Linked DNA regions of Homo sapiens: region 1 is reported to be linked to region 2. The links are microRNA targets in miRTarBase. Many come from high-throughput screens and were not tested one by one. Region 2 holds a microRNA gene; the other region holds the end of a gene's coding sequence.
Evidence for each region. The annotated mature microRNA hsa-miR-190a-3p reads CUAUAUAUCAAACAUAUUCCU and lies in region 2 at 4,231-4,251, opposite strand. An mRNA with a match to its seed (bases 2 to 7 or 8) in the 3' UTR can be bound and repressed. Matches are read on the target gene's strand: a 7mer-m8 pairs with bases 2 to 8, a 7mer-A1 pairs with bases 2 to 7 and ends in A, and an 8mer does both.

Region 1 (7,640 bases), not on the chromosome of region 2:
AGGTAAAACTAAAATTTATGATATTACTTTTAAATACTTTAAAAATTAAAGTGACATATTTTAAGGAGATAGGGCTTTACTATACATACGGTGTTTTAGTTAATGTAACTTATTGCTACTTAATGAGTTTGATCACTATCCTAATGAGTTTGATCTAATCTGTGATTGTGAAGACTCAGTCACAGATTAGAAAAACATTTTATTAGTTCCTCTCAAGGTTTGAATAAGCCAAGCTATCACATGGCTATATATTTTTTTATTTTGTTTTTGAGACAGGGTTTTCTGTCACCCAGGCTAGAATGCAGTGGTGTGATCACGACTCATTGTAACCTCAACCTCCTACACTCAAGCAATCCTCCCACCTCAGCCTCCCAAGTAGCTGGGGCTACAGGCATGTGCCACAGCACCCAGCTAATTCTTTATTTTTTGGAGAAACAGGGTCTGTGTTGCCCAGGCTGGTCTCAAACTCCTGGGCTCAAGTGATCCTCCTGCCTTGGCCTCCCAAAGTGCTGGGATTACAGGTGTGAGCCATCGTGCCATCACATGTGTGAGCCATCGTGTGAGTATAGGCCACACAGCTATACTTTTATCTTTAAAAAATGCTTTCACATTTTAGGTGGTTTTCAGTAAAAACAGCTAAGAAATATACCGTTATAAGACAATAGTGGCAGAGACTCACTTCTTCACTGATCTTTAAAATAAACCCAAACTCTTCTATGACCTTTGGTACGTCATTCCAATTAGGAAAAAGGGATATGAAAGCATTCACGAGTTGTGTTTCCAGAAGCTATTAATAATATACAAAAAACAGATACAGAGTTTTAGATATTATTTATTTTAAACTAAAGCAAATAACAAGTTAAGTGAAATTTGCAGTTTTCACTTTGCATTGTCTATTTAAAAGGCCTAGGTATTGGAGCTGAAATGCTGAAGAGGCTAAGTCAGGTATGTATTACAATTAGTATTGATATTCTATACATTAACCTTTTCTTAATAAATATTCACAGGGCATAAATTAAATCATTAATCTCACCATTTGAACATAACCCCAACATATACTTCAAATTTCTACCCAAATTAAACTGGATTTTCAAATCAGATGATCATATACAGTATATGAATTATAGTCAATTAAAATTGATTTATATATAATCCACAACCACACTATACACCCTTTTTGCTATCAAGGGAAAGTAAGAAGGAGGGAGATTAGAAAGCATTTTTATTCAAAAACACAGGCTCACAGTATGAATATTACAAGACTATAAAAGCAAGATCTTCTTGTATTTTGGAAACATATGAGAACATGTGTTCTTTTAGGTACACCTTTTCTGTATGATAAAGGCTTTGCAAATCAGTTTTGAGATTTTAAAGAGGGCTTTAAAGCTCAGAACAGTGAGACTTTTTTCTTTTTACAGCTATAGAAAAGTTCAAAAGGTAACTACTATATTTGGAAGTATTATTCACACATAGTGTCTTGCATAGAGTAGACCTTCAATAAAATATATGTGTTAACGAAGATTATACTTTCAAATGAAAGTAATATTTGCTTGTTTGTTTTTAAACAGATAGCCATCACAACTCAATGTAACTGCATGCACTTTCTTGTCGTCATTTGGAACCAGGCTTCTATCAACTACTATACTAGTCGAGGGGCTTTAGACCTTTCCTCTGAGGAGGGCTGGCATCTCTTCAGGTTTAACAGAGAAGAACTCCTGGACATGGCATGGGAAGAATGAAAGAGGCTTTGTAACAACTCATCCCAACACAGCCTCCAACATTTGACTGTCACCTGAGTCTAACAGCAGTTTGACTTTGTTGTACAATACAGCAAGTGATCATCACATTCTTGTTTGAGCAGATCTTTTATTTTGAAACAGATTTTGTAGCTCTAGTCAACTTTCCATTATCCAAACCAATATTCTAACGGCTAGTAGCAGTAGTGATAATCCAAAAGAGCAGATAATTTAAAAGTCACTTATACTTAGCTTTGCGCTATTTTTTACCTATCATATTTCATCAAAATTAAGGTGCTTTTCACAATTTGACATATCTGATGTCGGGATAAATGTAATGATCAACTGGCAGCATTTTTTGTTTGTTTGTTTTTAGAGGCAGGATCTTGCTATGTTGCTCAGGCTGGTCTCAAACTTTTGGCCTCAAGCAATCCTCCCACTTCAGCCTCCCAGACATAAGCAACTCTGCTCAGCATTTTTTTTTAAATTAAAGGTATATGATATGCCTTAGATTTGATGAAATATGGGTGTTTGAATATATTCAGATCTGAGGTTTAAAAAAATTCATTTCAAATACTGGAGATAAATTCTGAAGAGCTTACTTATGAAAAACTAGCAAGTAAACTGCTTCCCTACCTTGAGCAGCTTAAGTACCACTGCCTCCTTGACATCATCCCAGTACTACATTCTATCTCTGAACATCCATAGCTCTTTGGTTGTACTTATCTTAGGGAAGATACCACATACAACACTATATTTCTATGTTTCTCTCTTTCCTAGTAGAGTATAAGTCCTTTGAAATAATTCTAACTTTTGTGTCCTGTGCTGCAACCAGCATAGCAGAACGTGTGAGTTCCTACTACCTACCAGGCACTTCATGGGCATAGAAACTACACAAAAATTATTCAGTGATATCCACAAGGAACCTTGTCTGTGAGAAAATATTAATTACATAAATTGTGTAAAGTACCATATCTGTAAATACCAGCTATCACTTGCTAGTTTTTCATAAGTAAGCTCCTCAGAATTTATCTCCAGGATTTGAAATGAATTTTTTAAAACCTTGGATCAGATCTCAAACACACTCATATTTCATCAAATCTAAGACATATTATATACCTTTATTTTTTATTATTTATTTTTTGAGACTGAGTTTTGTTCTTGTGCCCAGGCTGAAGTGCAATGGCACGATCTCGGCTCACTGCAGCCTCCACCTCCCGGATTCAAGTGATTCTCCTGCCTCAGCCTCCCAAGTAGCTGGAATTACAGGCATGAGCCACCACGCCTAGCTAATTTTGCACTTTTTGCGTGTTTTTAGTAGAGACAGGGTTTCACTATGTTGGTCAGGCTGGTCTCAAACTCCTGACCTCAGGTGATTCACCCACCTTGGCCTCCCAAAGTGCTGGGATTATAGGTGTGAGCCACCATACCCGGCCATACCAAATACCTTCATTTTTTTAAAAAAGGCTGAGCACAGTCACTCATGTCTGGTTGGCTGAGGTGGGAGGATCGCTTGAGGCCATGAGTTTGAGACCAGCCTGGGCAACATAGCAATACCTATCTCTAAAAGACAGAACATCTAAATTCTACCCTGGAGGATTGAGAAAGGGAACATGACACTGGAATTGGACTTGTAGGATGGGTAGAAGTTAGAATGTAGAGCAGGATAAGATGGAAGAACATTCTAAGAGGACACACTAGCACAGGCAGAGAAAGAGGCAATAATGAGCAAAGCATGTTCAAGAAACAAATGGTATGTCATAAAGACAATATAATACACATTAGCAGTAGGGTGGGTAAGGAGAGGGAAGATAGGATTAGAAGGTAAGCTGGAATCAGATATGAAGGGCCTTGTATATCAGACTAAGGAGTTTTGATTCTGCAGGCAATGATGAGCCACTAAAGATTTCAGAAAGACAGCTATTCATTATAGTTGTCAAGACAACTATATCATAATAGACAAATGGGTTAGAAGAATAGGGTAGTAGATACTGTATGTTAGCTTTAATTCAGCACCTGTTCCCAACCCCTTACCCCTTGCCTTCCTCACCACAGGGGAAAAGAAACATGATTTCCCTATTCCCTATCTTCCTTGAGCTAAGTGTGTGGCTATATGACAAGTACTGGTTGAGATATACACAGAGGTCTTCTGAGGAGATTCTAAGAAAGCATTTACTTTTCTGGTAAAAGGGAGTCAGACGCATCTTGTGTACATTTTTATCTGCTATTTCCTACTTTGAATGTGTATCTGCTCCCTGGAGGTACAGCAGACATCTTGTGACCATGAGGTGACAAACCAGCATGCTGTAGAGGACAGAGTGGAAAGAGAAAAAGTCTACGTCCTTGATAGCACCAATGAGCCACTGTCCCAACCCTATACTGCCTAATTCTAGGCTATAAATAGGATAGGCCTTTTTTTTTTTTTTTGCTTAAGCTAATATTAAATATTTGTTTAACTAGTTTACTGTCACCTGCAAGCAGAACATATTCTGAAATGAGAGACAGCAAGATTGACAGTGAGCAAATTAGCCTGAAGGCTATTACAGTAACCCAGAAAAGTGATGATGATGACTTGAGGGAGAGTAATTATAGGATTAGAGAAGACAGAATAGATTTGAAGGAGCGGGAGGTAGAGACAATTTTGTTTTAGGCACATTGACATTGGCATATCTATGGGATGTTAGGTGAATATAACTAGTAAGTAGAAATAAAGGTCTACAGCACTAGAGAGATATGGGGGTTGAAAATATGAATAATAAAACAAATGGTGCCTGAAGCCAGTGAAGTCTGTTAAATGAAAAATGAGTGTGCATATAGAATGAGAAAATAGGACTAGGGATGAAACTTGAGCAGCCTCAGCATTTAAGGGATTCAGAGCAAGAGAAGAAAAATGAAGAATAACAAAAGCAGGAAAAATAGAGAGCAAAGGGATAAGTGAGTCTCAAGGAGAGAGTGGTGAAGAGTCAATAATGACATAAAAATTCAAGTAGGGGCTGGGTGCGGTGGCTCACGCCTGTAATCCCAACACTGTGGTAGGCTGAGTCGGACAGATGCTTGAGCTCAGGAGTTCGAGACCAGCCTGGACAACATGGTGAAACCCTGTCACTACCAAAAATACAAAAAATTAGGCATGGTGGCGGGTGCCTATAGTCCCAGCTACTTGGGAGGGTGAGATGGGAGGATTGCTTGATCCTGGGAGGTGGAGGTTGCAGTGAGCTGTGTTTGTGCCACTGCACTCCAGCCTGGGCAACAGAGCAAGACCCCATCTCAAAAAAAATTAAGCAGGTATGGAGGCCAGAATGTCACAAGACAGAGAGGACTTGAAAGTAGGGAAAAAAGGGACAATATTTACTTTTGTCAAAAAGTAACAATTACTTTTTAAAGAAGTATAACAATTATAGGAAGGAGAGAGAAAAAATAGTTCAAGGGAAGAGGCCAAGTTAAGGAAAGGTTTTTGTCTTGTTTTGTTATTGTTGATTTAAGACAGAGAAGACCTGCAGCTATGTAGAGGTGGAGGAAAGAAACTACAGTATCTACTACCCTATTCTTCTAACCTATTCTTCTAATTTGCTCACTGTAAAAAGAGAAACCGAAGACTAGAAATTAAACAGGGTGGAATATGGTCTTAGATGGGAAGGAATGAGGTCAAGAACACAAAGAGAAGCATGTCTTAGAAAAGGGGGATGCATGGCTGAAAAGAGGTAAGTCTTGAAGGTAGATGGGAAGAAGTTTTGGGAATGGTCATATCTAATAATTTAGTTTTTTCTCTATGAAATAGGAGGCACAGTCAACTTTGACAGTTCTAAGAGGCTTGAGAAGAATAAAACGTTTGTAATACCTCTTCCAGGGAACACAATAGTAAACCACTTAGGAACCAGTAGAAGGATTGCTAAGCAGTATTAGGAAGCCTGTGTAGCATATGGCCCTCTCAAATAGGTAGAGATGTTTTTAGATATTTAAGAGGAATTAACATTAACAAAACCAAGGGACAAAGCCAAGCTCAAGTCCCATAAAACATGGATATTTTATTCCAGCTCTAGGAAATGGGAAAAAAAAAAAAAAAAAAAAAAAAAAAAACAGAGGGAAACACACCTTTCCATACACCATTCTAATTTAACTAGCATTAATCTGGGAAAGCTAGAGCAGAAATATATGTTTATATGTATAAATATGTATGTATTTATACATATATATGTATAAATATGTATGTATTTATACATATATGTATAAATATGTATGTATTTATACATATATGTATAAATATGTATGTATTTATACATATATGTATAAATATGTATATGTATTTATACATATATGTATATGTATTTATACATATATGTATAAATACGTATTTATACATGTATAAATATGTATGTATTTATACATACATATATATATATGTATTTTTAGATTTTAATCTCACTAGAATTCATGTCTTCATTTTTTTTTAAGTGCCCTTAAAGGTCATCAAATGCAAGCTAATACTTCTACCTAAGTCTCCTCATCAATCATTTAATATTGTTTACACTGCATTCACAGTTTGTGTGTTAACCACTTATGTAATTTATCAAATGGCATATTTGGAAATGTAAGGGAGAAACTTGGTTTAGGTAATACTCTATGTATCAGTTACCCATTACATGATTTATTTTCATCATTATTTGCAACGCCACACATCTTGTAGTTTTCTGTGTAGTCTCTGCATGCAGTCTACTTCAGCTTCTAGTGCTGTACATATCTATATCTTCTGGGTGGGACTGCCCGTGATCCATGAGCTTGGGGTCAGGCATAAACTGGGTTGCACCTGATAAAGTATTAAAATGAAAAGAAAAATTAGTCACTTAACAAATTTATTTTTGATACTGGGAAGACAGCAGCGAACAAACCAGATAAAAATCTCTAGTGACACAGACCTAACATTTGAGTTAGGTGAGACAGACAAACTAATTAAATATATATCAGATGGTGGTTAAGTGCTATGTGAAAAAATGAAACAAGGAAGGATATATGGAGTGCTTAGGTGATTTGTAATTTTAAATAGGGCAGCCAGGGAAAGCCTTCTGGAAAGGTGATACATGAGCCGAGAACTGAAGGAGGTGAGGGTGTGCACCCTATAGATACCAGCAGGCAATGCCTTCCAGGATGAGCAGACGGCAAGTGTAATGGACCTGAGGTATGTCTGAGGAACCAATATGGTTGAAACACAGTAGACAAATGTGGTGTATGTAGGGGTGGCGGCAAGGCAGTGAGATGATAGGAGATGTGATCAAAAAGACAATGGAAAGCTAGGTCACACAGGGCCATGGTAAAGATTTTGGCTTTAAGTGAGATGAGAAGCTACTGGACAATTTTGAGTAGAGGAGTGAATGATGCTATGTTTTTAAAAAGATCACTCGGCCGGGCGCGGTGGCTCACGCCTGTAATCCTAGCACTTTGGGAGGCCGAGACGGGCGGATCACGAGGTCAGGAGATCAAGACCATCTTGGCTAACACGGTGAAACCCCGTTTCTACTAAAAATACAAAAAATTAGCCGGGCGTGTTGGCGGGCGCCTGTAGTCCCAGCTACTTGGGAGGCTGAGGCAGGAGAATGGCGTGAACCCGGGAAGCGGAGCTTGCAGTGAGCCGAGATCGCGCCACTGCACTCCAACCTGGGAGACACAGCGAGACTCCGTCTCAAAAAAAAAAAAATCACTCTTGGCTATGGGGAAAAGAAACTATAGGGAAACAAGGGATAGAAGCAGGGAGACCAGTTAGAAAGCAATTACAATACTCCAGAAGACATGCTGAGGGCTTTAGTTAGGATGGTGGAAGTAGAAGTGGTGAAAAGGTACCAGATTCTGGATAATGTTGAAGGTAGAATAGACAAGATTTCCTAAATGGACTGACTATGTCTTGTGAGAGAG
Region 2 (8,324 bases):
GGGCTTTTTGGTAGCTTCTAGAAAGGTCTGAGTACCCTGTAGTTGACCTCTTCCCTGCATGCTGACCTTCCTTGCTCACCCTTTAAAAAGTCAGTGGTCTGGTGAGATCCCTCTTGGGAAAGGCTATATATTGGGTTGGCTCCCTTCCCCTGTTTCCCAGTTGGGAGAGTATTTGGGACCCCTTTATGTTGCTCTGATGGGTTTAAAGTTTCAGTAGCTATATGTCCCCTGGAAGAGGAAATGGTGGTGGTAGGGGAAGTGGTGTGGAAAGTGGAGAAGGTAAAAGGGACAGCCTTTCCTCATGTTTCTTTTGACATTTGGCCTTTCATGGATTCTGAGAACATGGTCTTCACACTAATTCATTCATCTTCTAAGCCTACTTCCCCTCCTAACCTATCTGATGGAGTCATTACAAGCACGTGATTAGTATATGTAAAGCATGGCTGACTCATAGGAGATGCTCAAAAACTATTAGCAATTTCATTATCAAAAATTGTTTTTTTCAGGTTTGGGGCTAAATTAATCTGTTTCTCTGTCTAAACCCTGTTATGTATCCATAATTCCAATAAAAATTCTTCTTGCTATTTCTGATTACAGCCTAAATTCATTATAAGTAAAACCCACAAATCAGTAAGCGTCAGGTACCAAACAGCATAGATGGGCACCAGCTCCTCTCTCAGCACCCAACCAGGAGTGGGACAATCCGGGTGGTAGTCACTGTTCTGTACTTTGACTATGTGACTGTGGAGTCTTCGCTGCCCTTTCTCCAGGTATCAGTTACTCAGTTTTCTGTCACTGGAGGAGCAACTCAACCTTCCTGGTCCTTTTGCCTAGACATGGACAGTTCCAAATTAAACTTCTCTTAGAAGGCGGTGACTAAAATAAGCAGGAACTACCTTTTCTCTTCTGATTTCTCTTGACCTCCTCCTCAATATCCTTACCAACATCCCCCACTGCCCCCGCTCCTCCTCAACGTCCTTACCCACTTCCCCTGCTCACTGTCCTTGTCAGGTCCTGGGCAAGTGTTGGGCAGGGGAAGAGAATGTCCTCCCATGGTCTTTTTCTTGGCCTTTTCTTATGCCCTGCAACCCCACAGCTCCTTCCGCCAATGAACTTGAAGGTGAAGGAGCATAAGGCATGCATAGGAGATGGCCAAAGGGCTTGCCTCCCTCCCTGAAAACTTACTTTGAGGGAATGCTTTGTTGAGAGCTAAAAACACAATGGTCGCCCTTCTCACAACTGGCTCCACAAACTGAAGAACCACCCGTGTCATCTTTCCAGTGGGGTCTCAGGCTTTGCTCTGTGTTACTCAGAGTCTTGCAGAATGCCTGCTACTAAAAATAAGGTCATAGTGCATCAGAAACTTTAAAAAAACCCTCTTGGATATATATTTTTTAAAGTGTGAACATTTTGCATTTAATTTAAATGTCCTTGAGGGAAAAAAGGAGGCCAGTGTCTAGAACTCCCACAACAGGAGTGAGGCATTTTCCTGCCAGTTGGAAGCCGGAGTGGAGCAGGCAGCCACATTTCTCTTTTTTTTTTGTTGTTGCAAGTTTGGCTGCTACTAGTTTGCTTCTGGTATTGAACTGAGAGGTGCCTTGAGGGAGGCCTTAGCCTGTATGCAAAGCCCCAAACTGTGCAAAGGTTAGATCAGCTTCTCCTCTGGAGGACCCATGGATGGGGTGGCTTCAGGACTGCCACCTTTATTAGTTCAAACAAAAGGTACACCTCCCAGAACAACTGGAACTGCTAAGAGCCAGGCATGGACAGCTGGCCTTGTCTCAGGGAAAGCTCCAGAGAGACCTTAAACAGGCAAAATGGGTGGCAGAGAAACTGCCAAATGGCTGTGCCTGTGACTGGGGAGGGACCACACCCTCCGCATCCGAGGAATACGCGCGAGTTCATGCAGTGTCTGCTGGAAAAGGTCCGCACCTGCATGATTAGTATCTTGGGAGTAGTTTTCCCATAGTATCCATTGCTTTACTTTTGTGTTCAAAATGGAAAGCAACGCCACTGAAATAATCTTTTAATCACTATTTCTGTTTAAGGGGCCCTTGAATGTCGATATAGAAAGCACAGACAAAAGATAACAGGGTTCTTCCCAAGCTGTATCAGATAAACTCCCTACATCTTAAGCCCCCTTTCTGTGTCTGTGAAGGATCTGACAAGGACCTACTGGTCTACCCTGGAGGGGAGTCTCCCATACTTGCTTTTCTTATTTATTTATGTTTTTGAGACCGAGTCTCACTCTGTCACCCAGGCTGGAGTGCAGTGGCACGATCCCGGCTCACGGCAACCTCCGCCTCCCAAGTTCAATCGATTCTCAGCCTCCTGAGTAGCTGGGACTACAGGCGTGCACCACCATGCCTGACTTATTATATATATATATAAATATATATATATATAATATATTTATATATATTATATATTATAATATATATTATAATATAATATATAATATATATTATAATATATAATATATTATATAATATATAATTATAATTATATTTAATATATATAAAAATATATTTTTATATATATTTATATTTATATATATATTGTATTTTTAGTAGAGACTGGGTGAAACCCAGCTGTTGGTCAGGCTGGTCTCGAACTCCTGACCTCAAATGATCCGCCCACCTTGGCCTCCCAAACTGCTGGGATTACAGGTGTGAGCCACCATGCCCGGCCCCATACTTGCTTTTCACACCCTGTATGCTCCTGGTCTGGAACCAATGAGTGCCACTCAAAGCCCAAGTGCAGCCATACAGAAAATGCTGTATTTGTCCTCCTCCTTCCTGAACAGTTGGTTCCTTTTTCCCTTCACCATATTAATCACTACAGAGAACATGCTGGTCAGTGACAAAGTCACCCAAAGAAACAAGAAAATCACATCAATTCAAACAACTGGGCTTCGTCTGCAGGTCCTTTTGAAACCATGTTTTTCTTTGTTCGTAATAACTTGCTGTCTCTTTTCCATGGCCATTTGCCATTTCAGTCAAACAATGTAACTGGACTCAAAACCAAAGCCGGTGTTCTCTAGCTGTGTGAAGGAGGGACTGATTGGGGCAGCATCTTGAAACCCGCCTGACAGAGCACCTGCCAACACACACAGATCGCTTCTCAATGGAGAAGGATTCCAGAGACAGGATCCATTATGTAACTCCAGAAGCCAGGACTCCAACATTACAGGACCCTCTCCTGTGTCATCACCTCTCTGATGTTGCTGTTGGTGACCCTGTCACTATGCATTCACCTGTAAGCAATGTGGCAATGACTTCTAGACACAGTAAGGGGAAGCTTTCATGACTACCTGTTTAAACCATTTGCTTACACCTTTTCTCCTCCAAAACATTGAGAACAGTAGTTCTCTTTCCAGAAAGCAGTGCTCACAAAGTATTTTGTTTGTTGAGAGAACTCAGAATGAACTCACACATACTTCACAGGCTTTTCTATAAGGAAGAGGTCAAAACCAACCAAAGAAGGCTGTTATGTACCAGAAAAAATGTTTTCTATATCATAATCCCAAACTTCCTGCCACAGTCAATTAGGCTATGATATTACTTTCCGATTGTTGGCTTATTCTAAATATTACCAACCTCCACTGACAAGTTAACCTATAACAGGAAATTCAAGAGTTCAGTCAACATTATATTACCTTCATGAGATATATTTAGTCCTATATCCAAGGTTTGTACAAAGCTCACTGACTCAGTATCCATGCAGCTGGTATGGAGGATTTGCTTTATACATTCTGTTACTGTGAGTGGAAAGGGAAGTCATAGAAAACTGATCTGTGCTCCTTGAATTTTTGCTGAAACCCTGACATGAACTTCTAAATTGAAGATCAGGATAAAAATGAACCAAAATGAAACATGAATCTAGATGTGTTTGAGGCTATAATCCTGACCTTTATTCTGTGTCACAGACATGGGTTGGAACCGTTTTTTCCACCAAGCATATTGAATTCCTTAAGGATTCATCACTGCACAAAACTAAGCCACACAGAATACCCCAGGCTCTTATGAAACATCAACACTTATTGTTTCTATAATAAGCAAGTAATCCAGTAATACTGATACAGGTCTCAAATGCTATAAGAAGAAATGGAAGATAACATGAATTGTAATGAGTGCTCCATCTTCTAAATCTACTTGTGATTTTAACGTGTTCTTTCCTGTTGCCTTATAAACTTTATTAGGAACCCCCGGAGACAGGGCAAGACACTGTAGGAATATGTTTGATATATAGTTGGATTAAATAACAACCTAATATATCAAACATATCACACAGAGGCCTGCAGAAAAGGCATCCAGGTTTGACTGAGCTCGAGACTAGGCACAGTATTGAAGGTTACGGCTGCAGGGGGTGGTCACTTTTGCAGCAACTCCGATAACTGTCTTTGGAGCACAAGTCTGCCTGCAGATGTGGAAACGGCGCCATTAACAATACTGTCAGCACATGCACCAGCGCTCACTGACATTCTCATCTCCCCAGGTGAACAGCAGATTCAACGGTGCATGTCTGGGAGATCCCAGGCAAAAAGTGATGCTTAAGTTTTAAGAGCCTGAGGTGGAAATGTACCAGAATCATCATCAAAGACCATGAGCCATTCTCCTTTAAAAACAGGCAACCTGAGACGGTGGTGAGCAGAGCATTTTAGACAAAATTACTGTCTCTCCCCAAACTCTTCCTGAAAGCAGTGTGAATACTCCCCAGAAGGAACACACATCCATTTTATACTGAAGGCATGTGTGTGTACCAGGGTAGGGTTATAGGGATGTAATAAGCAATTGTTTACTGACAGTACCCTGAGGATTTTTTTAAGGTTTTGGGAGAGAATGGAGAGAAGTGATTCAACTCAAAAGACTGGCTGATTTTGGTGCAGATTGTTGTTATTGTTTTTTAATTGGGGAAATAAATTCCTTTATAAAGGCAAGGAAGATATTTCATGCAAAAGTTATTGCAATGTGCCCTATTAGGCACAAAAACTATGGTTTGGGTTGCAGGTTTTCCAAAACAGTTTCATAGATAATATCCACCTCTGGCCATCAGGCAGAGAAAGACTTCAGACCATTGTGAAGCATTCTAGAAGTACCCATCACCCTTCCTAATACGATGGGAGTGAGCTAAGGTAGGAACCCTCAAACAAAGGATTCACATCATCAGTTATGTTAACCTTGACCTTGGCCGAAGGACTCCTTGGCTTTCCTGTAAAAACCCTCAATGTAAACACAAAGGCTATATGATCCTAGAGTACTGTAGGGAGTCCTCACAGGCCTACTTCAGCAGTCATTAATTTTTAAGGTGCTGTTATTTTTTAAACCTTTGTTTTATAAAATGTTAAAACACAGACCCTTCCATCATCCCAATTCCATCATCATTCTTGTACATTCCCTACTTATTTTCTTCATCTGTGAGTTTTTAGAGTTGTAATCATAATAAGTACATAATTCTGCATCCTTTCTGTTATACCATGAGCATTTTCTTCGTGCTACACAGTCCTAGCAACCATTATTTTTCATAGCTGCATAATATTATAGCTGCATAATATTCCTTCGAGGAGTAGCTCTAAGGGCACACATAAACTACAAATGGCCTTTGTGGGACTAGACAAGCCTTCTCTGACAATGGGGTGGGAAACAGGGGCTGGTATGGACTGAAACTGCCACCCAGGGCCATACATAGCCCTCCCAGCTGAGTGACAGTGGTCGGACCCTGGCAAGGTAATTCGCCTCTTGGTGCTTCTGATTCTAATGGACTTTTTCCAAGGATCAGATGAGTGACTCCCATAAAGTACCCAGAAGACTGCCTGGCACAGGCTTGGCAGCTGAACAACGCGAGCTTCCTGGTTTTCTTTCTTCAGGGGCCAGTGGAATAATTTTTATTTCAGGCATTTCCTAGGGAGTAAGTCCCAGACACACATTTTCAGTGATGATGGTGATAATAATGGTGATATAGTTACTATCTACCAAGTCTCACTGTATGTCAGGCAGTGTTCTTATACTATCTTATTTAATTATTATAACAATAATCCTATGGGGTAGGAACTTTAATAATTTTGTTTTCCCATCTGGAGTCGTGAAGTGAACGACCAGACACGGGGAAACCAGGACTCAGACAAGAGCTCAGAAGGACCCTGCGGAAGGACAAAGGGAAAGACATTGAAACAGGAGCTCTTAGAATATGGTGAAGTGTTAATGTTAAATTAGCACCAGGCTAATTCTCCAGGAGAACGAATGTGTCAACTGACATGGCTTCGGCATTAGCGGACAGAGCCCTCCCCAAGAAAGGCCATCGTGATAAATCAGACAAGGAAATGGAAAAACATCATGCACCAAACCTCTAAATCTTAGTTAATGGTTGACTCTTAAGTTTAAAGTACACTTTTCATTCACGATTAACTTGACTGACAAAGCAGAAACAAAGGCGTAACCAGAAAATGGAGTTGTCCCAACACCCACACTTGGCTCTTACTCTGACAATATCAGGCAACCCAAGACTCCCAGGTAGAGTCCAGCAGAGAGAGCCCTGGTAAACCCCACAATCAGAAGCCCAAATCCTTAAGTTACATCTTGATGAGAAAACGTTTAAGTGCCTTTACCAAGTCCAGAGCGACTATTAGGAGGTTGGTTCTAAGCACTCGAAGGTTTTAATAATGTTCCCAAGCTGAACAGACTCAGTCTGTGTTTATTTCATACACTACACTGGCCCAGGCACTGCTTTTGAGTGGTCTGCTCTGTTTCAGGGCCCAGACTCCATCCCTTGGTCTTACAAAAATAGGTAAATTTTTAGGTATACCTAAATTGGTGGAATCCAGCCCTTTTTTGAGGGGAAAAGCCAAATATTATTTCCTAGTATATCTGGGTCCTTGGAAATAGATGAGTTACATGCACCACCAGGGACTTACTTGAATAGGAAGAAAAACAGGCCGCCTCTGGTTCTACCATTTTCCTGCTGAAGACAGCTATGGAAGGTGGGGTAGGAGGTATTAGCTTAACAGGATTGGGGCTTTGCCCCTGGAGACAGCACTAGCTTGTCATCCTTTTATTTAGAAAGTGTCCTTCCTCCTGCCTAATCTAAAAGTATCTCTTTCCTTTAAATGGCTATTTCTCTTCACATATACCTATAATCTTAAGTTTTAAACATTTATCTACATGACAAACACAGAAGGAAAAAACATACCAGCTACCCATCCTCTCCAGCATATACTGACAAAGCCTGGAGTGGGTGCACTTTTGAAGTTCTCATTGCCCTCTGATTCCCAGCAGTGCTATTTCTTTGTAAAAAGCAAAAGAGAAACCAGAAAATTGGAGGCTAACAATCTCCTCTCCAGTAACAGCAACTTCTGACAGAAAGCATCCAACACCTGCTTTAGATAATGAACTAAATCAAGACTGCAAATGCCCCAATTCTTCCTTTGGATACTCAGAGGAATTTTTCTGGGTGGTTAACTTGAAAGACTCATCAGCCATTTTTTTACCCCCATACTCTAAAGCAGTGCCGGGCAGGTAGATCCGGTTTTCTGCTTGCTAGTCTGACCATAAGGAAGGAGCCAAGCTCCCTGCAGCACTCCTAGCTCCATTTCACAGCCACCCACTGGAAGAACCCACTGACATCGGACAGCCAACCATAAATGAACACTTACTTTTGGTTTTGCTCTTGGCTTCAGTTGCTCTAACTTCTTAGCAGCAGCTTCGATGGATGCTGCAGCCCCCAGTAACTCTGTTTCTGCAATGACAGTTGGGTCTTCTGGATCCACCCACTCTGTTCCTAGAATCAGTCCAAAAGAAGGTGATTCTTCATAGCTGCAGACCTCAGGGCACTGGCTTAATTAAAAACACTATCTGGATTTGCATGCATGAAGGCTCCAGGAGCCTGACCTGCATTGTCCTAAGGAACCTTCCTTCCGTCTCTCATAAAGGCCATCTGGATGGGGGTGGGGGGTGGGGGTGCTAATCCTGGTTTTCTAAATCAGTTGCATGTATGGCCCTTCCACAGAGCAGTCACCAAGCAGCTTCAAAAATGATCTCACGGACCAAGGCTTGAGCTTTGCTCTGACTTTGAACTTAAAGCTCATGAATCTAAGTAAGCATCCTCAGGAGACACTACACTATGCTGTACATCACACAGGAATTTGCCATTCTCTTCTCCCTGGAACCCAGGAGGACTGACCCCTCACCTTAATTCAAAGTAAAGGAAATTGGTGAGAAGACCTTTCCCAGGTGGGTTGATTGCTTCTATGTAAACATAAAGGGTGTCCAAACAATGTTTTCAGGTAGCATCATTTTCAAAACATGAAGTACTATTTGAAGGAGAATAAA

Region 1: miRTarBase lists APOOL as a target of hsa-miR-190a-3p. Seed matches in the 3' UTR shown: 7mer-m8 at 6,130-6,136, 7mer-m8 at 6,128-6,134, 7mer-m8 at 6,126-6,132, 7mer-m8 at 5,924-5,930, 7mer-A1 at 2,848-2,854 and 8mer at 1,143-1,150.

The regions. Positions count from the first base shown.
Region 1 is chrX:85,086,490-85,094,129 of GRCh38, reverse strand. It overlaps APOOL (apolipoprotein O like), which reads right to left. Exons shown (of 9, transcript NM_198450.6): 9 at 815-6,540. The coding sequence ends at 6,452. It overlaps SATL1 (spermidine/spermine N1-acetyl transferase like 1), which reads left to right. Exons shown (of 8, transcript NM_001367857.2): 6 at 1-2; 7 at 905-945; 8 at 1,569-1,846. The coding sequence ends at 1,739. Among named protein-coding and RNA genes, the nearest start is that of APOOL, 86 kb to the right of the region's middle.
Region 2 is chr15:62,819,935-62,828,258 of GRCh38, reverse strand. It overlaps MIR190A (microRNA 190a), which reads right to left and starts at 4,302; the gene lies at 4,218-4,302. It overlaps TLN2 (talin 2), which reads right to left. Exons shown (of 59, transcript NM_015059.3): 54 at 7,649-7,773.